Linked DNA regions of Homo sapiens: all the other regions are linked to region 4. The links come from fine-mapping of genetic effects on gene expression. A gene starts in region 4. Each other region holds a variant in brackets. All regions are shown on one strand. Distances are between the middles of the regions. Region 1 overlaps IGSF23 (immunoglobulin superfamily member 23). Region 2 overlaps ZNF227 (zinc finger protein 227). Region 3 holds the start of IGSF23 (immunoglobulin superfamily member 23). Region 4 holds the start of CEACAM19 (CEA cell adhesion molecule 19).

Region 1 (5,472 bases), 34 kb after region 4:
GAGTATTTCTCACAAGGTGGAGACGAGAGACTGAGAAAAGAAATAAGACACAGAGACAAAGTATAGAGGAAGAAAAGTGGGCCCAGGGGACCGGTGCTCAGCAAGTGAGGACCTGCACCGGCACTGGTCTCTGAGTTCCCTCAGTATTTATTGATCACTATCCCTACTATCTCGGTGAGGGGGATGTGGCAGGACTATAGGGTAATGGTGGGGAGAGGGTCAGCAGGAAAACGTGAGCAAAGGACTCGGTGTCATAGATAAATTTAAGGAAAGGAGCTGTGCCTGGATGTGCACGTAGGCCAGATTTATGTTTGACTTTACACAAATATCTCAGTGCAGTAAAGAGCAGTATTGCTGCCAGTGTGTCTCACCTCCAGCCATAAGGCAGTTTTCTCCTATCTCAGTAAATAGAATGTACGATCGGGTTTTACACCGAGATATTCCATTCCCAGGGACGAGCAGCAGACAGATGCCCTCCTCTTATCTCAACTGCAGAGAGGCCTTCCTCTTTCACTAATCCTCCTCAGCACAGACCTTTTATGGGTGTCGGGCTGGGGGACGGTCAGGTCTTTCCCTTCCCACGAGGCCATCTCTCAGGCTGTCTCAGTGGGGGAAATCTTGGACAATACCCAGGTTTTCTTGGGCAGAGGTCCCTGCTGCCTTCCGCAGTGTATGGTGTCCCTGGTTACTTGAGACTGGAGAATGGCAATGACTTTTACCAAGCATACTGCCTGCAAACACATTTTTACCAAAGCACATCCTGCACAGCCCTAAATCCATTAAACCTTGAGTCAATACAGCACACGTTTCTGCGAGCACAGGGTTGGGGCTAGGGTTACAGATTAACAGCATCTCAAGGCAGAAGAATTTTTCTTAGTACAGATCAAAATGGAGTTTCTTATGTCTTCCTTTTTCTACATAGACACAGTAACAGTCTGATCTCTCTTTCTTTCCCCCACACTTTTGAGGTCAGGAGTTCAAGACCAGCCTGGCCAACATGGTGAAACCCCATCTGTACTAAAAACACAAAAATTAGCTGGGTGGTAGTCGTGCACACCTGTAATCCCAGCTACTTGGGAGGCTGAATCACTTGAGGTGGAGGTTACAGTGAGTCAACGTCATGCCACTGCATTCCAGTCTGGGCAACAGAGTGAGACTCTGTCTCAAAAAAAAAAAAAAAAAAAAAAGAAATATATGGTCTAAAAAGTTATTTATTTAACTGCTCAACAAATGGCAGCAATTATTATTGATGTCTCCTGGGGCTTATGATTCTTTATCTGAAAAATGGGCATAGCATGGCACAGTGGCTCAAACCTGAAATCTCAGCACTTTGGCAGGCTGAAGTGGGAGGACTGTTTGAGAAGAACGCATTAAAGCTCTTTGGTGCGATGCCTGACAATTACCACTATGGAGACGTGGCTGCTCTTTAAACAATTTTTAAAATTTTTTTATTTTTGGCAGAGTCTTGCTCTGCTGCCCAGGCTGAAGTACAGTGGCACAATCTTGGTTCACTGCAACCTCTGCCTCCCGGGTTCAAGCGATTCTCATGCTTCAGCCTCCCAAGTAGCTGGGATTACAGGCCCGCACCACCACGCCTGGCTAATTTTTTTTGCATTTTTAGCAGACAAGGTTTCGCCATGTTGGCCAGGCTGGTCTTGAACTCCTGAGCTCAGCTCAGTCAATCCATCTGCCTCGGCCTCCCAAAGTGCTAGGATTACAGCTGTGAGCCACTGTGCCCGGCCAAAAAAATTTTAATTTTTAAATTTTATTTTTCTTAAACACCAACTCCAACCAGAAGACCTGGCTGCTCTTTTATTTATTTATTTTTTTTTTTGAGACGGAGTCTCGCTCTGTTGCCCAGGCTGCAGTGCAGTGGTAACGATCTTGGCTCACTGCAAGCTCCACCTCCCGGGTTCACGCCATTCTTCTGCCTCAGCCTCCCGAGTAGCTGGGACTACAGGCTCCTGCCACCACGCCAGCTAATTTTTTGTATTTTTAGTAGAGACAGGGTTTCACTGTATTAGCCAGGATGGTCTTGATCTCCTGACCTCGTGATCTGCCTGCCTCACCTCCCAAAGTGCTGGGATTACAGGCGTGAGCCACCGTGCCCGGCCATCTGGCTGCTCTTGTTATTAATGATCTTAATGTTGTTCTCTAGTACAGCTGACCCCTCCCTCACCAGGAAGCCCTCCTGGATCCTCCAGTCTCCATTAAGACTCCCCCCTGGCCTCCCAGAGGAGAGTGATGACTCTGGGTCATCACTGGGAACAGGTCTGTCTCCCTCACTGTACTATAAGCCCTAGGAGGGCAGGCCCAGGGCTGCTGTGGTCACCTCTTGAGGCAGGAGAATAGGGAATTAGGGTAACCAAGGGTAAAGCCATAAGCAAAAGAACGCAGGTACACCTAGTTCTAGGCAAGATTAGGCAGCACACAAGCCACATCCCCATTCGTGTGATAACAAGGGACAGGGTTTCACCATGTTGCCATGCTGGTCTTGAATTCCTGACCTCAGGTGATCTGCCCGCCTTGGCCTCCCAAAATGCTGGGATTACAGGCGTGAGTCACCGTGCCTGGCTAACATCTCTTACTTATTTTATTTTATTTTTGAGATACTGTCACTCCCTCACCCAGGCTGGAGCACAGTGGCCATGATCTCGGCTCACTGAAACCTCTGCCTCCTGGGTTCAAGTGGTTCTCCTGCCTGAGCCTCCCCGGTAGCTGGGATTATAGGCATGTGCCCCCACATCCGGCCAATTTTTGTATTTTTAGTAGAGATGGGGTTTCACTATGTTGGCCAGGCTGGTCTTGAACTCCTGACCTCAGGTGAGCCACCTGCCTTGGCCTCCCAAAGTGGTGGGATTACAGGTGTGAGCCACTGCGCCTGGCCTGCTATGACACATTAATCATGTAAGGTAAATAGTCAGTGGCTGGCA[C/G]ATGGAGAGCCCTCAACAGACAAGACTTGGACTCAGTTCTGCTACTATTATTGCTAAGCAGAATGCCATGTTAGGTGGTTCTGTGTTGGTCACAGAAGCACCGAATTTTCCTCAAATGTGAGATATATCCCCCAGAGGAGTTTCAGCCATACTTGTGTGCCCTGTGCCTGCTATCTGTCAGGATCCTCCTATGGAGAGGTATTAAACTTGAACAGTGCAAAGCTCAAAGGTTGATCTTATTTGCAAACATGCCTCTCCCACTCTCAGGAAGAGAGGCTTCATGAGAAACCATTCAGAAGTGGTGGTGTTTTAATTTATTTTTTGGTTCTTTTTGAAAAAGAGAAAAAAAAAGCAGCATGTGTAAAAGACATATTTTGGGGTCTGGCCAATTTCCAAGGTAAAACCTCCCCCCTGTTTTCTGAGCACTGAGCTCCCACAGACAGGGATGAGCCTCTGATGCTTTGCTTGCACAACGTGTCACGGCGATGGGACCAAGGATGGCACCGAGTCAACCCATCAGATGTTTTCTTCAGGTGTTTCAGAAACAGGGCAAAGGGAGTCTGGTTACGTTGGGTTGTTCCCTTGAACAGAGATGTTGTAGACTTGGAAGCTATGGGATGGGTTTTTTTTTCCACGTGGATAGAGAGGTACAAAGCACCCATCTGCAGAGAGAGACAGAGAACTGTAAATTCCACATGCAGGAGGAAAGGAATTGTAAGGGCTTGGGGTGGGGGTGAAGTGTGTGTGTGGGGGAGGCTGGCAGAGAGAGCTGTGTGTACTTCCACATTTCTTCGTAGATTGCAAAAATGGCCACAGATTTTTCCCTTCTTAGCAAGAGGTGGAGTCAACTTCCCCATCCCTTGAATTTGGCCAGTCATGTAACTTTGGCCAATGAAGTCCTTTCTGTGGCAGAAGTGATGGCATGTCCATTTTGAGCTTGAGACTTAAGGGGCCTTGAAGTTTCTGCTGTTACTCTTGGAATCCTGCCTCTGCCATGTGAACAAGCTTGGGTCACCCTGCTGGAGGATGAGAGACAACATGAAGGAGAGGCCAGTTGTCCCAGCTATGAGGCTATCCTAGTCCAGACAGCCCCTGGGCAATCTGTCAACTGACCCCAGATGCAGGAGCGAGCCTGGCAGAGACCAGAACTACCCAGCTGAGCCCAGCCCAAATGGATGACCCATGAAATTGCAAGCTAAATAAATGGCTGTTGTTTCAAGCCAGTGAATTTTGGGGAGGCAGTTTGTTACAAAGCAAATGCTGACTCACACCTATGGATTGCTGAAAAATTTCATAGGTCCTTATATTAAACTGTTCATTTTATTTTTTCCTGAGCTACGTCAGTGAGTTTCTTTTGCATGGAGCCCAAGAGGTTTATGAAATATAGACTGCTTGTTTAGGCAGCTTCCAGGAATTTGATGAGCTGGGCAGATGGGGTGCTGGCAGTTGGCAAAAGAAGAGAAAAGCAGCTCCTGGAGCTCTCCACAGGAGGGGAACATCTCACAGACAAATGACCAGGGAACCAGGAGGGAGGAAATCACATATGGAGTCTCTGCCCAAGAACTTCTTTCTGTTCCCAAACCTAGGATTTCCTTCACACCCTTCCTGGTATTACCTCTTCAGCTGACAGGAGAGTTGCCCACATTTCAGCTGCATATTCCTATTCTCTGCCTGTCAGTCCTGCAGTGGAGAGAGAGAGAGAGACAGAGAGAGAGAGAGAGAGAGAGAGAGAATAAGAATCATCGACTGAATTATTATCCGTTCCCCAAATTAATATGTAGTCCTAACCCTCCAATGTGACTATATTTGGAGATAGATTCTTCAGACACAGTAAGGTTAAATGAGATCATAAGAGTGGGGTCCTGATCCAATAAGACTGGTATCCTTACAAGAAGAGGAAGAGACCCCAGGGATGAGCATAGAGAAAAGGTCACGTGAGGACACAGTGAGAAGGTGGCCTTCTGCAAGCCATGGAGAGGGGCACTATGGGACATCAAACTGGCTGCCACCTTGATCTTGGACTTCCAGCATCCAGACTGTGAGAAAATAAATTTTTGTTGTTTAAGCCCCCCCGGTCTGTAGCATTTTTGTTACAGCAGCTGGAGCAAACTAATACAATCATCATCATCACATGGCTGAGGTTTATTGAAGGCTCATCACATTCCAGGCACTGTTCACAGCTCATGACTCCCACCATTTTACTTAATCCTCACTCCTGTCTTTGGAGGGAAGTATAATCACATCCCTGGGTTTTTTTTTTTTTTTCTTTTTTCTTTTTTTTGGAGACAGTCTGGTTCTGTTGCCCAGGCTGGAGTACAGTGGCGCTATTTTGGCTTACTGCAACTTCCGCCTCCCAGGTTCAAGAGATTCTGTTGGGAACATGCCCCCCAAAATCTGGCCATAAACTGGCCCCAAAACTGGCCATAAATAGTGGCCTGACCCTCCAGTTCTTTCTTTTCTGGAGGACGCTGGGCGAAAAGTAGTTGCCCCAGTGACTGTTCGAGCAGCGCCTGGAGCGACTGCTGTCAGTTCTATTCAG
Region 2 (5,472 bases), 430 kb after region 4:
ATATTCTGACTTGGTCTCGTTAACACTAGTTTCTCCTAAAATGCCTTGGTCCTCTCAAGAAGCAGTAGAGGGATGTGCTTTGAGAACTTTGTCAAACTACCTCTGAGAAGGTTCAGAGAATGAGAGGTAAATAAAGTAAAGCAATGCTAATCAATGGCATCCGTGACACTCACAGGCTAGGAGAGCTCCGCAACACTTCACCAGAAACCATTCCTTAACACTATCTGCAAGGAAACATTGACTGGAAGGCTCTCATCTGAATATATCTATCTTTGGATATTTCTATCAGATACTTTTCTTCATGGCCCTACGGGAACATTTTATTTGGTTTAAAGGGTCAATACCCTGAGAATAGGAAAAATTATAATGTTTGGGAGACTATGCCATTCAAAAATCATCTCTGGCATCAGTCATCCAATACTCCCGTTCTCTCTGAAAGACAGAACCCCCAAGTTCTAGTTGGATGCATGTCCACATTCCCCAGTAAATATATGAATGATACTGGGAGACAAATTTCTGATTCTTGAAGAATGAAGATGCAACATAGAATGGGGGTAAGGCTAGAAAAAAAACACTATGATATTAATTTAAGAACTAGAGATAAAAGCAGGAACTCATCATTAATTCTTTCTACCTTTCTACTTCTCTTCCTATCTGTATAACTCTTTCCCCTCCTTCCTAGAGGGAAAAAAAAAAAGGCACAGCTATTACCCAGATCTTGATGTTTAACTACCATCCCCCAATCAGAAGAATCTGAGTTCTCAAAGAAACAGCAAATTCCATGGATGGTGCAGGAAGGGTACAAGATGAGCTTGGAACACTGTATTGTGTCAGAGTAAAGATGTGCTCCAATTTATTTAAAAATACATGATGGGCAAACAGGACAGAAGGGAAACTTCCTTAGAGTAGAACAACAATCTAACAAGTGTTGGAGGAATGATGAAAGTTGAATATATCACACTTTCGCACCATCAGAGCAATTACTGATTTAGACCAGACTTACAGAATGCTTAAACTAGTGGAGGAAAATTTACTGAAAAACAAGCTATTTAGAGTCAGAAAGTGTCTCCCCAGGAGTTGCCTTTGTAATTATTAATTACAAAGAAAAAAATAGTAATTTCGCAGTGGAAAAACCCAGCACCGCCCTCCCCAATCAAGTGTTCCAAGTTAACATCACCTATAAAGGTACAAACATACCTCGTTTCCTCACGTGCTGCACACCACTTACAGAGTCCTCATGGGAAAAAAATGTGTAATTTAAATCCAATTGTAAGGAAACCTCAGGCAAATCCAAATTAAGAGACATTCTACAAAATAATCTCAAAAATATCAAGGTCATTAAAAACAGAGGTAGCAACTCAGATTAAAGGAGTCTAAATGCAATGTGTAATCTTTGGACTCTAGAGCAGAAAAACAATAAATATATTATTGGGATAATTTTAAGATTTAAATAAGGTCTGTAGGTTACATAGTGTTATGTATCAATAATAAATTTTCTTTCTGGGTGCAGTGGCTCATGCCTGTAAACCTTGCATTTTGGAAGGCTGAGGTGGAACGATCACTTAAGCCCAAGAGTTCGATACCAGCTTAGACAACATAGCGAGAGCCCATCTCTACAAAAATCTTAAAAATTAGGTGGGCATGGTGGTCCACGCCTGCAGTCCCAGCTACTTGAAAGGCTGAGTGGGGAGGATTGCTTGAGCCCAGGAGTTCAAGGCTGCGGTGAGCTATAATCACCACCCTGCACTCAGCCTGGGCAACAGAATGAGACCCTGTCTCTAAATAAATAAATCACTGGAATGTTGTACTGTAACTAAGTAGATATCCTTGTTCTTAGGAAAGCACACTTAAGTATTTAGTGTAGGGAGAAGGATGTCTGTAACATATTCATATGGCAAAACTTTATATATAAATGCGTTTAGTATGTATAAGTATCAGTATATACACGCTCATACTTATTGAGAGAATAATTCAAACATCTTAACAACTGGTGAATCTGGGTAAAGAGTATATGGGAGCTTTTATATAATTTCTGTAATTTTTCTGAAAGTTTCAAATTATTTCAAAATAAGTTTAAAGAAATATAAAAATATACATAAAGTAAAATCCCATTATTTAGAGAGAACTATAATACCCATTCATCTATGCGTTTTTACAAAATAGGATCACATAAAAATCTCACATTTTGTTTTTCAAGTTAATATATTCTGAACATCTTCCAATATCCACAGCTAAAAATTTACCTTTTCCCATTTGATGTCTGCATAGTGTGCCACTGGATTGGTAAAGCACAAAATACTTTGGCAATCCAAGTATTTCTATGTTTGCTACTAAAACAATGATGCACCGACTATCCTCTTTTCTCTTTCTCTTGCTCTCTCTCTCTCTTTCTTCTTTATTTATTTGAGATGGAGTCTCGCTCTGTCACCAGGCTGGAGTGCAGTGGCGCAATCTTGGCTCACTGCGAACTCCACCTCCTGGGTTCAAGCGATTCTCCTGCCTCCGCCTCCCGAGTAGCTAGGACTACAGGCACGTGCCACCATGCCTGGCCAATTTTTTGTATTTTTAGTAGAGATGGGGTTTCACCATATTAGCCAGGATG[T/G]TCTCAATCTTCTGACCTTGTGATCCGCCCACCTTGGCCTCCCAAAGTGCTGGGATTACAGGCGTGAGCCACCGTGCCCGGCCATACTACTATCCTTTAATACACCTCTACAGCAGATATAAATTTACTTCTGAAGATCAAAGATTCATCTCTGGGGATATATTCCTTAATTTTACACCTATATACCATATAAAAGAATCATGAGTCCTTAGCTACAGAAAATTTTTAGTAATTTTATTCATTTTTCATAGCTTTACAGCTTTTATGAAAATAATGATCACTGTAAGTATAAAATGAAAATTAAAGAAAAGGGATAATAACCCAAAACTCTCCCTGGCCAAAAAACCAGTTAGCATATGGCAAATATCCTTCCACACATTATCTTCAGGCATATATTCACAATGAAAGGTGATCATTTATATTAACTAGATCTTACCAAGAGAGCCACCAGCCCTATTTCTCCCCTAAATACGAGTTCTATTCCTGTTCATGGTTCTGTGTTATCATCTTGATGGATTTGTTAGAAAGATTCCAAGTGTGAACAAACCCCCTTCCACTCTCAGTAGTTTTACAGGGTTTACCACCAGCATGGACTAGCCAAAAACTTGAAGATGTGCATTCAGACAAAAGTTGGTAACACATTTCTCATTTCTAAAGCTTTTTACCAGTATGGACTTTCTGATGATATGTAAGACGTGAACGGTGACGGAAGTCCTTATCACATATGTCACATTTGTATGGTTTTTCTCCAGTGTGGACTCTCTGATGGGCTTCAAGACGTGCACTCTGACTGAAGCCTTTACCACACTCTTCACATTTAAAGAGTTTTTCCCTGGTGTGAACACCCAGGTGGACTCGAAGATTTGAGGGGAGACTGAAGGCCTTACCACACTCCTCACATATATGGGGTTTCTCTCCCGTGTGGACCCTCTGATGATGGCGAAGATTCAAGCTCCTACCAAAGCCTTTCCCACACTCTTCACATTTGTAAGGTTTTTCTCCAGTGTGGCCTCTCTGATGGTATATAAACTGCGAACTGTATCTAAAGCCCTTTCCACACACATCACATTTGTATGGCTTTTCCCCCGTGTGGACTCTCTGATGGGATTGAAGACCAGAGGACTGACTGAAGCCCTTACCACAGACACCACATTTGTATGGCTTCTCTCCAGTATGGACTCTCTGATGTACCCGAAAATCTATGGCCTGACTGAAGCTCTTATCACACTGCTCACATTTATAGGGTTTTTCTCCTGAGTGAACTCTTTGATGTGCATGAAGATTTGATCTCCAACTGAAGCCCTTCCCACATTCCTCACATTTATATGGTTTTTCTCCAGTGTGAATTACTTGGTGTAGTTTAAGATTTGAACTATAACTGAAGTCCTTACCACACACATCACATCTATATGGTTTCTCTCCAGTGTGGACTCGCTGATGGGTTTGAAGCTTTGAGGACTGACTGAAGCCCTTCCCACACGTTTCACACTTGAATCGTTTCTCCCCAGTGTGGACATTCTGATGGACTTGAAGATTTGAAGCCTGACTGAAGCCCTTACCACACTCCTTACATTTATAGGGTTTCTCTCCCGTGTGAACTCTGAAATGAATATGCAGATCTGTATTACGGGTAAAGCCTTTCCCACACGCCTCACACTTGTATGGCTTCTCTCCTGTGTGGACTCTCCGATGGCATATTAATGGTGAATTGTGGCTGAAGCCCTTACCACACACATCACACTTGTAGGGTTTCTCTCCAGTGTGGACTCTCTGATGGATGTGAAAATGTGCAGCCTGAGTGAAGCCCTTACCACATTCCTCACATTTATAGGGCTTCTCACCCCTGTGGACCCTCTGGTGAACACGGAGATTAACACTCCAACCGAAGCCCTTACCACACTCTTCGCATTTGTATGGTTTTTCTTCAGTGTGGACTCTCTGATGGCACTGAAAATTTGAACTTTGACTAAAGCATTTACCACATTCCTCGCATTTATAGGGTTTCTCTCCAGTATGAGTTCTGTAATGAATGATAAGACCCGTGCTGCTACTGAATCCCTTGCCGCAACTGTCGCATCTATAAGACTTCTCTCCTGTATGATTAGATTGATAAGAATGAAAAGAGCTCTTATTGAAGCAATCACCAGATTCATGACATCTATTGAGTTTCTCTCCTGGGTGAATTCTCTGATGAGTTCGCAGATGTGAGCTTTGACTGAAGCATTTTTCTCCTGTATGAACATTCGGATGAAGGGGAAGCCTTGGGCTATAACTGAAGCCCCTTCCACACTCACCACATGGATGGGGTTTCTCTCCTAAGGGTAATTTCTGATTGGAGCCATCACTAATGATTTTGCCATATTCATTACCTTTGCAGGGTTTTGGTTCTGTGTCAGTTTTAATATGCTCATGAAATGGTGATTTCTTCATGAAGTCTTCATGTATTTGCAGGTTATTTTTCACATCAATTTGCTTACCTCTACTCTGAATCTGTGACTCACTCAGATATGTATTCCCGCAAGAATGCTGGGTTCTCCAAAATGGAAACTCTTGATTTTCAATATAAATAGAGCTATCTCCTTTAGGGTTCATTATATTGTTCTCATTTTCAGAAACCTGAATAGAGTCACCTTGTAATAACTGGGAACTCTTCCCCTGAAGACACCTGGTTAATTCACTTGCAACCTGTTTCCAGATTTGCCAGCAGGACAGCTCTTGATTTGAAAGGTATTTTAATGCAAATTTTTGGAGTGTTTCCATCTTATTTTGATGCTTGCTGCCTATTAAAAAAGAAAAAAGGCAATATTTAGAGATGAGGGCAGTAAATGCTTTCTTCAGAAATATCAGAATTTCACACTTAGGCCATGGGA
Region 3 (5,472 bases), 58 kb after region 4:
GGTTCAAGCAATTCTCCTGCCTCAGCCTCCCAAGTAGCTGGGATTACAGGCATGCACCACCACGCCCAGCTAATTTTCTGTTTTTAGTAGAGACGGGGTTTCTCCATGTTGGTCAGGCTGGTCTTGAATTCCTGACCTCAGATGATCCGCCCGCCTTGGCCTCCCAAAGTGCTGGGATTACAGCACTTTGTAATCCCAGCCACTGCACCCGTGAGCCACTGCACCCGGCTCAGAACTGAACTTTATTTATTTATTTTTGAGACGGAGTCGTGCTCTGTCGCCCAGGCTGGAGTGCAGTGGCACGATCTTGGCTCACTGCAAGCTCCGCCTCCCGGGTTCACGCCATTCTCCTGCCTCAGCCTTCTGAGTAGCTGGGACTACAGGCGCCCGCCACCAGGCCTGGCTAATTTTTTGTATTTTTAGTAGAGACGGGGTTTCACCGTGTTAGCCAGGATGGTCTCGATCTCCTGACCTCGTGATCCGCCTGCCTCGGCCTCCCAAAGTGCTGGGATTACAGGTGTGAGTCACCGCGCCCAACTCAGAAGTGAACTTTTAAGACCTGGATAAGGAAGCAATTCATTCACTATCTGAGAGGCAGATGTGTGTGGTCTCTGGAAAGTGTGGTCTGGGAAGCCAGCCCATCTGGCTTCAAATCTTCAGTCTGCCACTTCCAAGTGTGTGACCTGGAGAGGGCACATGACCTCTCTGAACCTCAGTTTCCCCTTCTGTGAAATAGGGATCGTACAGCTCTGATCTCAAAGAGTTGTGATAAGAGGTAAATGTTACTATAGGAAAGCACTTAGAACGGGCTGACAGGCTGGGCGCAGTGGCTCACGCCTGTAATCCTGGCACTTGGGGAGGCCGAGGCAGGAGGATCGCTTGAGCCCAGGAGTTCGAGACTAGCCTGGGCAACATAGTAAGACCTCATCTCTACTAAAAATAAAAAATTAGCTGGGTTTGGTGGCGCATACCTATGGTCCCAGCTACGCAGGACGCTGAGGCAGGAGAACAGCTTCAGCCCAGCAGGTTGAAGCTGCAATGAGTCATTATCGGGCCACTGCACTGTAGCCTGGACAACAGAGCAAGACCTTGTCTCAAAACAAAACAAAACAAAAAAACAAAAACCCCAAACAGGCTGGTATATAGATCTATTCAGTTACAGTGACCTTCTATTACGGCTGTTATTATTTTATGATTGTTATTATTTATATGTATTATTACTAAGTTGCGGATTGCAGGGGTGAGACAGGGCATTCTGGTGGAAGGGGGCTGGGCTGGGGTCCCAAATTCTGATCCTGCCCCTTGCCAGCCCTGTGATCTTGGGTAGGTGACCTGTTCTCCTCTTTGCGCCTCACTTCCCTTCTTCCTAAAAGAAGCCAATAGGGTCATCTCTTGTGGCGGAGTGGCCTTCAAGAGTTCTCATGAGTTGGGTGCCTGAGCTGCATGGGCCTCAAACTGACAGGGTCAAAGCTCTGAGTGGGGGTGACTTGGACTCGTAAGGAGACACTCTCCTCCTTGTCCCTGGCCCGTGGTGAAGCCGCTGTCTCCAACGCACCTGTTAAAAGCAGCTTCCTCCAGGTAGGGGTGTGGCTGGAGCTGACGTCCAGAGGACCCCTCATCTCGTGTTCTGTCCAGGGACTGTGCAGAGAAGGTCTCCTCATCACACATGGGGTCTTCATAGACCTGTACAGTCGCGTCTGCAGCCCCGGCCTCACCCTGCAGGACCCTGCTCACGATGACCATGCCCTACCCTGGCCACTTCCCCACATGACTTACACCAAGTTGGCTGGGAAGTCACCTCCAGCCGCATCCTTCTCTAGCATCGGGTCAGTGGTGGTGGTGGGTGGGGACCAGGCTGGGACAGGGTTCCTGGGAAGGGGGCTCTGAGGTTTTGCTCTCATTCTCTCACCGTACAATCCCCGCCGGGAGATGGAGGGAGAAGCAGAATCGCCCGCTCCTATCACTCACATCAAAGGCAAGGAATGGCCAAAGGTCAACCTGGTAGGAGGTGACGGGGCTTTGGACTCTGAACCACAGCTTTTCTCCTCTGTAAAATGGAGGCGTTAATAATAGTGCCTGCCCCAGAGTCAGACAGGGCCGTGGACACAAGGTGCTTGGAGTAGTGCCTGGTCACGTAGTAGGCGCTCAACGAATGGCAGTCACTATGAAGTCAATGCTAATTATAATTTGGTGTCTAGGATGTCCTGGAGGCATGTTTAGAATCCCGTTATCAGGAGCTTGCTCAGACTATATCCTGAATTTTAGATTCTAGAAGGATAAGCTACACTAGCTACTTTTTCCTCACCCTTCTCACTCCCCAGGTCCATTCTTTCCTCCTCAAATTAATAATTATATTACTCAAACTAATAGCTGGTGTTTATTGAACACCTACTATATGCCGGACACAGCATTAACCTTGTAACAGGGTTGCCTAATTTGAATCCTCATAGCAACCTCGAGGGGTAGATATGAGCATCCCCATTTTCTCGTGGTGCACAGGGGCTAAGTAACTCACCTACCATCACACAACCGTTCACAGGGGCTTTCTGCCAGTTTTTGGAGGCACCAGCTCAGGGGCTTTGCATGAGCCGTTCCCTCTCCTTAGAACCTTACTCATGTAATCTCAAAGCTGACTGTATCTTATTATTTTGGCTTAATTCACACACATCACTCTATCAAAAAGGCCTTTCTTAATGCCTGCTGCAACTCAGTTCCCCACCTCTTTGCTAGCAAGCCACACTGTTTTGTTTTCTTTACATCATTTACCGCTATTTTAGATGATTTATTTAT[T/G]TGTCCACTTGTATTATCTGTCTCTCCCTCCTTAGTCCCACCTCTCCGACTTGAATATCAGATCCAGGAGGGCAGGGATGTTGTCTGGCTTGTGGCTATGTCCCTAGTGACTAGAACAGTGCCTTGCATATAACAGGTGCTCAATACATGTTTTTGTTTTTGAGACGGGGTCTCACTCTGTCAGCCAGGCTGGAGTGCAGTGGCACGGTCATAGCTCACTGCAGCTTCAACCTTTTGGATTCAAGCAATAATCCTGCCTCAGTCTCCTGAGTAGCTGGGACTACAGTCTCACACTACCATTCCCAGCCAATTAAATTTTTTTTCTTTTTGTAGAAATAGAGTTTCACTATATTACCCAGGCTGGTCTCAAACTTCTGGGCTCAAGTGATCCTCCTGCCTCAGCCTCCCAGAGTGCTGGGATTACAGGCATGAACCACCTAGCCAGCCTACATGTTTTCTTTTTAGTGAATAAATGAATGAAGAGCAAGTGAGTGAAATGGGAGTGTTCAGACTTGAACTCAGATCTTTCTGACTTAGAAGCTCATGCTTTTCCCTCCCAGAGAGGTTCAGGTTCCACCCAGGGGCTAAGGTTCACCCATAAGTCTCTAATAATAGTCATTATCAGGTGACACAGTTATTTCTTTATTAGCATTTGCTAAAGTGCCTTTTTTATAGTTGGTCTGAAGGCCTCTGCTGGAGTGATTAGCTAGGTCAGGAGACCACTGTAGGAAAAAGTAAATATTTACGATGCAGTTAATAACCATTATGTTGTAAGGTTTCTGGGGTTTCTACCCAGCCAGTACTCTCTTGTATCCAGGTAACAGCACCTGGAGTTCTCTTTTGGAAACCAGCCTCCTCATGGCTCCAGGGAGGTGAGGGGCCCAGGACTGGCCAATCAGAGCACTTCATCCCCTGACAACAGTGATTTTTGGAGACCTGGGCGTGGCACTCAGAACAGGCCAAGGAGAAGCAATCTCTTACGGATTTTATTGGAACTCTGGGGAATAAAGCAATTTTTCTTTTTTCTGTTTTTAAATTTTTATTTATTTATTTAAAGACAGAGTCTTGCTGTGTTGCTCAAGCTGGAGTGCAGTGGTGTGATCTCTGCTCGCTGCAACTTCCACCTCTGGGGTTTAAGAGATTCTCATGCCTCAGCCTCCGGATTAGCTGGGATTACAGGCATGTGCCACCATGCCCAGCTAATTTTTTCATATTTTTAGTAGAGACAGTCTTTCACTATGTTGCCCAGGCTGGTCTTGAACTCCTGGCCTCCAGTGACCCACCTGCCTCGGCCTCCCAAAGTGGTGGGATTATAGGCGTGAGACACCGCACCCAGCCTAAAAGCATTTTTTCTTGCTTCCGGGTTTGCTGAGCTGAAGAGATCTCAGTGTGCAGCTGCTGGGGGCCATCTTTCTATCATGAGTAGAGAGATTGCCTAAAAACGAGGCCAACACATGTGAAAGCATAGTCAATGCACAGAAAGAGAGATTTCTAATGGCATCATTTAAACACCTAGATTCAGCTGTGCCTGATGTCCATACTGATCCTTCAGCTTGTGTGCTATGCTGGTCTGTGTATTCTCATTGTTTCCCCTGAAGTCAGTTTGTTTTGGGATTCAGTTACTTTAAATCCCAAAAGAACTTTGATTGAGGTCGGGCACGGTGGCTCACACCTGTAATCCCAGCACTTTGGGAGGCCGAGGCAGGCGGATCACTTGAGGTCAGGAGTTCTGGACCAGACTGACCAACATGGAGAAACCCTGTCTCTACTAAAAATAGAAAATTAGCTGGGCGTGGTGGTGCATGCCAGCTACTCGGGAGGCTGAGGCAGGAGAACCTCTTGAACCCAGGAGGCAGAGGTTGTGCTGAGCCAAGATCACGCCATTGCACTCCAGCCTGGGAAACAGGAGTGAAACTCGGTCTCAAAAAAAAAAAAAGAAAAGAAAGAACTTTAATGGAAAGGAAAGATGAAAAACAGAGCTTTGAAAGGATCTGACTCTCAATCTAGCTGAGACTCAGGCTGGATAAGGGAAGACTCTGGGGAAGAGACGGTGAAGCGGACCCCTGCAGGACGAGGAGAACTTAGCAGGTCACTGTTTCTGAGGACTGCAGAACTCCATGTAAACCTCTGCATTAAGAGATGACCAAGGCCAGGTGTGGTGGCTCATGCCTGTAATCCCAGCACTTAGGGAGGCTGAGGTGGGAGGATTGCTTGAGGCCAGGTGTTTGAGACCAGCCTGGGAAACATAATGAGACCCCCATTTCTACAAAAAAATAAAAAAATTAGCTGGGCATGGTGGCATGCATGTGCCTGTAGTCTTAGCTACTTGGGAGGCTGAGGTGGGAGAATTGCTTGCGCTCAGGAGTTCGAGGCTGCAGTGAATTATTATTGAGCCACTGTACTCCAGCCTGGGCAGCAGAGCAAGGCTCTGTCTCAAAAAAAAAAAAAAAAAAAAAAAAAGAGAAAAAGAAAAGAAAGAAAGAGATGATCAAAGTTTAGCAGGGCATCTAGCAGCATAAGGTCGTGTTCTTAGGATGACTCCAGCCCCCAGTTAAAATACCACCCGAGAAAGCTCTACCTTGCCAGGAGAATTTACTGTCTGACCTAGCCAATATCTGGCAATATACCCCTAATTTCCCTTTTCAGAGCATTTACTAAGAAGGGCCTACAATTATGACTCCT
Region 4 (5,472 bases):
GGGTGCTGCTGAAATCTCTGCAATGCACAAACCCTCTACTAGTAAGAACTGGCCAATACAAAACATCAGTAGTGCTGAAGCTGAGAAACTATGCTTTAGGGAAAATGTTTAAGATGGTGCCTGGCTCTTAACGATCACCCAAGAAATGCCAGCTGTCATTATTGCCCACCACCCTTTCCCTCACACTTTGCCCCGAGTGGATTCATCAGTAAATACTCGCTTTATAAACATAAAGATTGAGGGATGCATTCCTCACAACCAGGCATACAGTAAGTGCTCGATAAAAATTTGGTTAATGTTAGTGCATGTGAAAGGTAAATGAGATGGTGCATTCTCCAGTGTCAGGCACAAGGCGGGCATTTCATAGATATTTTATTAGTTAATGCATGTGAGGGTTAAAGACTATCTCTGGGGATTGGTACACAGTAGATGCTCAATATGTGTCAAGTGAATAAATGAGAGGACCAAATGAAATGGTGTTTGCACAGCACCTGGTGCATGGTAGCTGCTCAGGGCTCATTAGCTTCCTCACCTCATCCCCAGACCCTAACACTTACCAGCTACCTGGACCTCAGTCTTGGCCTTCATAGTCCATTCAGAGTTGATGGTAATGGCTACTTGGTAGGTGCCACTGTCTGTAGGCTGGGCGCGGCGCAGCAGCATGGAACCATTGGGGAAGCCCACGATGTCTCGCTGTCCCATGGCACTGCCATCCCTCTGAGGCCGTTGTATCCCAGGGATGTAGGTAAATAGCCTCGTGCCTCCGTACGTCTCCTCCCCCAGGTACCAGTTGAAGTCCTGGAAGGTGTCTGGGACACCCTGGACTGACAGGAGAAGGTCCTGGTTCTTTTGAGGCTGCTCTGGAATCTTCTGGATGTAGAGAGCTGCCTGGGAGCCTTGGAGCATCCAGAGGACCAGGATTGAGGCTGTGGGAAGTTACAGGGAAGGGCTGAGATCAGGGGTGTTGCCAGGGACCATGGCATGCTCCTCTCTAGATACAGATCTTCAGCGGGGAGCAAGGACTCTGAGTGCTGCTCATTGGAAACAATGCTGGGATTGATTAGTGATGTCTGCCCTGGGTGCAGGAGTGGGAACACAGGCATGGTTACCACAGATTTGCCATCCTGTTGATCCAGAGGTTTTTCTACCTTGAGATGCTGTGTGGCCTGCTTCTAAACACATGGACTCTCTGAATTCATTCATTCATTCATTTATTCAACCAATACTTATAGGCATATGTAATATATAAGCTATAATACCAACTATATGTAATACATCTAAACTTCCTTCAATTTCTAGACACTGGAGATATAGCAGGGAACCAAACATACATAAATTCCTGCCTTCATGGTCCTAACATTATAGAAAATTCCATAGATAAAATGGCAATGAGGCTGTGATTCTGTTGCCCCTCCCCCATCTTATTCTAATTTCATCCTCTCAGGTAATCTTTCCCTACTTCTAAGAGGAAACTTCAATCTCTGGGCTGAGTCCCCATTTCTCCCCTTGGCCTTTAGGGTCTATTTCCTCCTTACCTGAGAGCAGGAGGCTCTTTGAGAAGCAGCCCTGGGTCCCCATGGGAATCTCCATCTTGGCGTCTTGTGGAAATGCCAAGGGGCCACGAGCTGGACACTAAGGGGGCCAGAGGGGTGGGCCCTGGCTGTCTGAAGTAGGCCAGCTCAGTGGGGATCCCAGGGGTGCCTTAGAGACACCGCTGGGGCTGGCCCAGCCCCAGCATGCCCTGTCCATGGGCTCTGGAGGCTCCACCTATACTCCCTGGGATGGGAGCACAGACAGAGGTTGAACCAGTTTTTCAGGGTGACTGGGGAACTTCCCAGGACTCCTCCCCTGACCCTCTTCAACCTCTTTTTCTCACTCAGCGTGACTACAACAGCAGTCACTGTAGCAATAGTCATAACAGCCTCTGTTTGAACAATTCCCCTGGGTTTGTTCAAACACACACTGCCTCATTCAGCAGCCACCATAAATAACTGTTCCCATTGCACAGATGTGGAAACAGAGGCCCAGGAAAAGAGGCAAGTCTGCCAATAGACAGAGGTGGGATTTCACCTGTGGCTGACTCACTTGAAGGCTCTGAGGCAGGCTGGGTGCGGTGGCTCACGCCTGTAATCCCAGCATTTTGGGAGGCCAAGGTGGGTAGATCACGAGGTGAGGAATTTGAGACCAGCCTGGCCAACATGGTGAAACCCTGTCTCTACTAAAAATACAAAAGTTAGTCAGGCGTGGTGGTGGGCACCTGTAATCCCAGCAACTGGAGAGGCTGAGGCAGGAGAATCACTTGAACTTGGGAGGCAGGGGTTGCAGGGAGCCGAGATCGCGCCACTGCATTCCAGCCTGGGTGACAGAGCGAGACTTCGTCTCAAAAAAAAAAAAAAGCTCTTAGCCTCGTGTTTTTCTTTTTTTTTCTTTTGAGATGGAGTTTCGCTCTTGTTGCCCAGGCTGGAGTGCAATGGCGCAATCTCAGTTCACCGCAACCTCTGCCACCTGGGTTCAAGCGATCCTCCCACCTCAGGGAGTAGCTGGAAATGCAGGCATGCGCCACCACGCCCGGCTACTTTTGTAGTTTTAGTAGAGACAGGGTTTCTCCATGTTGGTCAGGCTGGTCTTGAACTCCTGACCTCAGGTGATCTGCCCACCTTGGCCTCCCAAAGTGCTGGGATTACAGGTGTGAGCCACCGCGCTCAGCCTGTTTTTTTTTTTTTTTTTTTTTTTTTTTTTTCTTGAGACAGGGTCTTGCTCTGTCTTTCCATTCATGAACATTGGTTGTCTTACCATTTAAATATGTCACCTATAATTGCAAGAATATTTTGTAGTTTTTGGATTGGTTTCTTTTTTAGATGCTGTGTCACCCAGGCTGGAGTACAGTGGCACAATCTCAGTTTACTGCAACCTCCGCCTCCCAGGTTCAAGTGATTCTTCTGCCTCAGCCTTCTGAGTAGCTGGGATTACAGGCATGCGTCACCATGCCTGGCTAATTTTTGTATTTTTAGTAGAGATGGGGTTTTGCCATGTTGGCCAGGCTGGTCTCAAACTCCTGACCTCAGATGATCCTCCTGCCTCGGCCTCCCAAAGTACTAGGAGTATAGGCATGAGCCACTGCACCCAGCCCCAGAGTGTATGTTTTGTACTTTTTTGGATCATGTTTATTCCAAGTGTGTTATTCTTTTTTTTTTTTTTTAAGACAGGGTCTCGCTCTGTTGCCCAGGCTGGAGTATAGTTGCATGATCATTGCTCACTGCAGCCTCCAACTCCTGGGCTCAAGCAATCCTCCCGTCTCAGCCTCCTGAGTAGCTGGGACCACAGTTGTGTGCTACCATCCCTGGTCAATTTTTATATGTTTTGTAGAGATGGGATCTCACTATGTTGCCCCAGGCTGGTGTTGAACTCCTGGGCTCAAGTGATCCTCCCACCTTAGCCTCCCAAAGTACTGGGATTACAGATGTGACTCACCATACCTGGCTTAGCCTAGTTTTTAAAAAGCATCCTCCATTCATTCCAGCACACATTCCCAGTGCCCAGTTGTGTGTGCTGGGTGATGTTGGTGACACAGTGATGATTGAGACCACCTCTGCTCTGCCCTCTGTCCACAGTAGGGCACACAATCCTGTAGGGTTTGGGGGGGCAGACCCCTCTCACACAATTATGATCCAGAGTGATCAGGGCTGGGATGGAGGAGCCCAGGAGTCTGGGAGAGCCCAAGGAGACACACCTCATTCAACCTGACGGCTAGGGAGGGCTTCCTGGGGGAGGGGGCATCTGAGCTGAGACCTGGAGTAAGAGTAGAAATGAGGCAGATGATGGGGTGAGGCAGCATGAGGTGCACCAGGCAGCATAAATAGCAATGCAAGGATGTGGAGGCTGAGATAGTCATCAAGGTGTATTGAGGAGGTTGCAATATCTTGGGTGAGTGGAGCCAGGAAGGAGGGTGTGGGGCCTGTGTGTGTGAGGCTGGGAGGTAGGAGAGATCAAATGTGCTCTGTTGGTTGGATCAACAGAGCTTGGATAATGGAGGGTCTAGTGTTATGCTGTTTAATATCATAGCTATTAGTCATATGTGGCTATTTAAATATAAATTTAGGGAGGCACAGGTGACCCACACTTGTAATCCTACCCCTCTGAGAGGCTGAGGTGGGAAGATTGCTTGAGCCTAGGAATTGGAGACCAGGCTGGGCAACATAGTAGGACCCCAACTTTACACAAAACAAATTTAAAAAATTAGGTAGGCTTGGTGGCTTTCAACTATAGTTCCAGTTACTCAGAAGGCTGAGGCAGGAGGATTGTTGAACCTGGGAGGTCAAGGCTGCAGTGAACTTTGATCATGACACTGCACTCCAGCCTGGGTGACAGAGTGAGACCATGTCTCAAAAAAATATACTGAATAGGCCAGGCGTGGTGGCTCATGCCTGTAGTCCTAGCACTTTGGGAGGCAGAGGCAGGCAGATCACTTGAGGTCAGGAGTTCAAGACCAGCCCGGGCAACATGATGAAACCCTGTCTCTACTAAAAATGCAAACATTAGCTGGCCGTGGTGGCGCATGCCTGTAATCCCAGCTACTCGGGAGGCTGAGGCAGGAGAATCACTTGAACCTGGGAGGTGGAGGTTATAGTGAGCCAAGATTGTGCCACTGCACTCCGGCCTGGGCAACAGAGCAAGACTCCATCTCCAAAAAAAAAAACTGAATATATATATATTATTTTATATATAATATATATTATATATAATTATATATTATATTATATATATTATATTATATTATATTATATATTATATTTATATATACATATTATAATATATAATATAATATATAATATATTATAATATATAATATATGTATATAATTATATAATTATATACATATATAATATGTGTATATAATTATATAATTATATACATATATAATATGTGTATATAATTATATAATTATATACATATATAATATGTATATAATTATATAATTATATACATATATTATATATTTATATTATAACTAATATATAATATATATAATATATATAATATATATATTATATTATATATATTATATATTATAAAATATATATAATAATATATAAATATATTATATATATAATATATAAACATATTATATAAATATATTATATATATAATATATAAACATATTATATAAATATATTATATATATTATAAACATATTATATAAATATAATAATATATAAACATATTATATAAATATAATAATATATAAACATATTATATAAATATAATAATATATAAACATATTATATAAATATAATATATAAATATTATATAAATATATATATAATATATAAAATATATTATATATAATATACTATATAATATAGCATATAAATATATATAATATATTATATAAAAATATATAACATATTATATAAAATATTATATAAATATATAATATATAAATATATTTATATATTATATATTTATATATAC

Evidence for each region. PIP is the estimated chance that this variant, and not a neighbour inherited with it, causes the effect. A credible set is the group of variants that fine-mapping cannot tell apart.
Region 1: its variant is the best candidate, but not a certain one, in a credible set for the expression of CEACAM19 in blood mononuclear cells (TOPMed, PIP 0.71).
Region 2: its variant is the best candidate, but not a certain one, in a credible set for the expression of CEACAM19 in substantia nigra (GTEx, PIP 0.83).
Region 3: its variant is the best candidate, but not a certain one, in a credible set for the expression of CEACAM19 in aorta (GTEx, PIP 0.64).

The regions. Positions count from the first base shown.
Region 1 is chr19:44,634,542-44,640,013 of GRCh38, reverse strand. It overlaps IGSF23 (immunoglobulin superfamily member 23), which reads right to left. Exons shown (of 5, transcript NM_001205280.2): 4 at 4,549-4,613; 5 at 3,233-3,595. The coding sequence ends at 4,580. Among named protein-coding and RNA genes, the nearest start is that of PVR, 6.6 kb to the left of the region's middle. RefSeq lists an enhancer at 2,971-3,265. The variant C/G (reference allele first, on the strand shown) is at 2,934.
Region 2 is chr19:44,234,612-44,240,083 of GRCh38, reverse strand. ZNF227 (zinc finger protein 227) reads right to left here. Exons shown (of 6, transcript NM_182490.3): 6 at 2,816-5,382. The coding sequence ends at 3,254. It overlaps LOC124904726 (a long non-coding RNA gene), which reads left to right and starts at 5,240. Exons shown (of 3, transcript XR_007067266.1): 1 at 5,240-5,329. The variant T/G (reference allele first, on the strand shown) is at 2,603.
Region 3 is chr19:44,610,075-44,615,546 of GRCh38, reverse strand. IGSF23 (immunoglobulin superfamily member 23) reads right to left here and starts at 1,984. Exons shown (of 5, transcript NM_001205280.2): 1 at 1,777-1,984. The coding sequence starts at 1,901. RefSeq lists an enhancer at 71-572. The variant T/G (reference allele first, on the strand shown) is at 2,791.
Region 4 is chr19:44,668,050-44,673,521 of GRCh38, reverse strand. It overlaps CEACAM19 (CEA cell adhesion molecule 19), which reads right to left and starts at 2,040. Exons shown (of 8, transcript NM_001127893.3): 1 at 1,536-2,040; 2 at 558-926. The coding sequence starts at 1,590.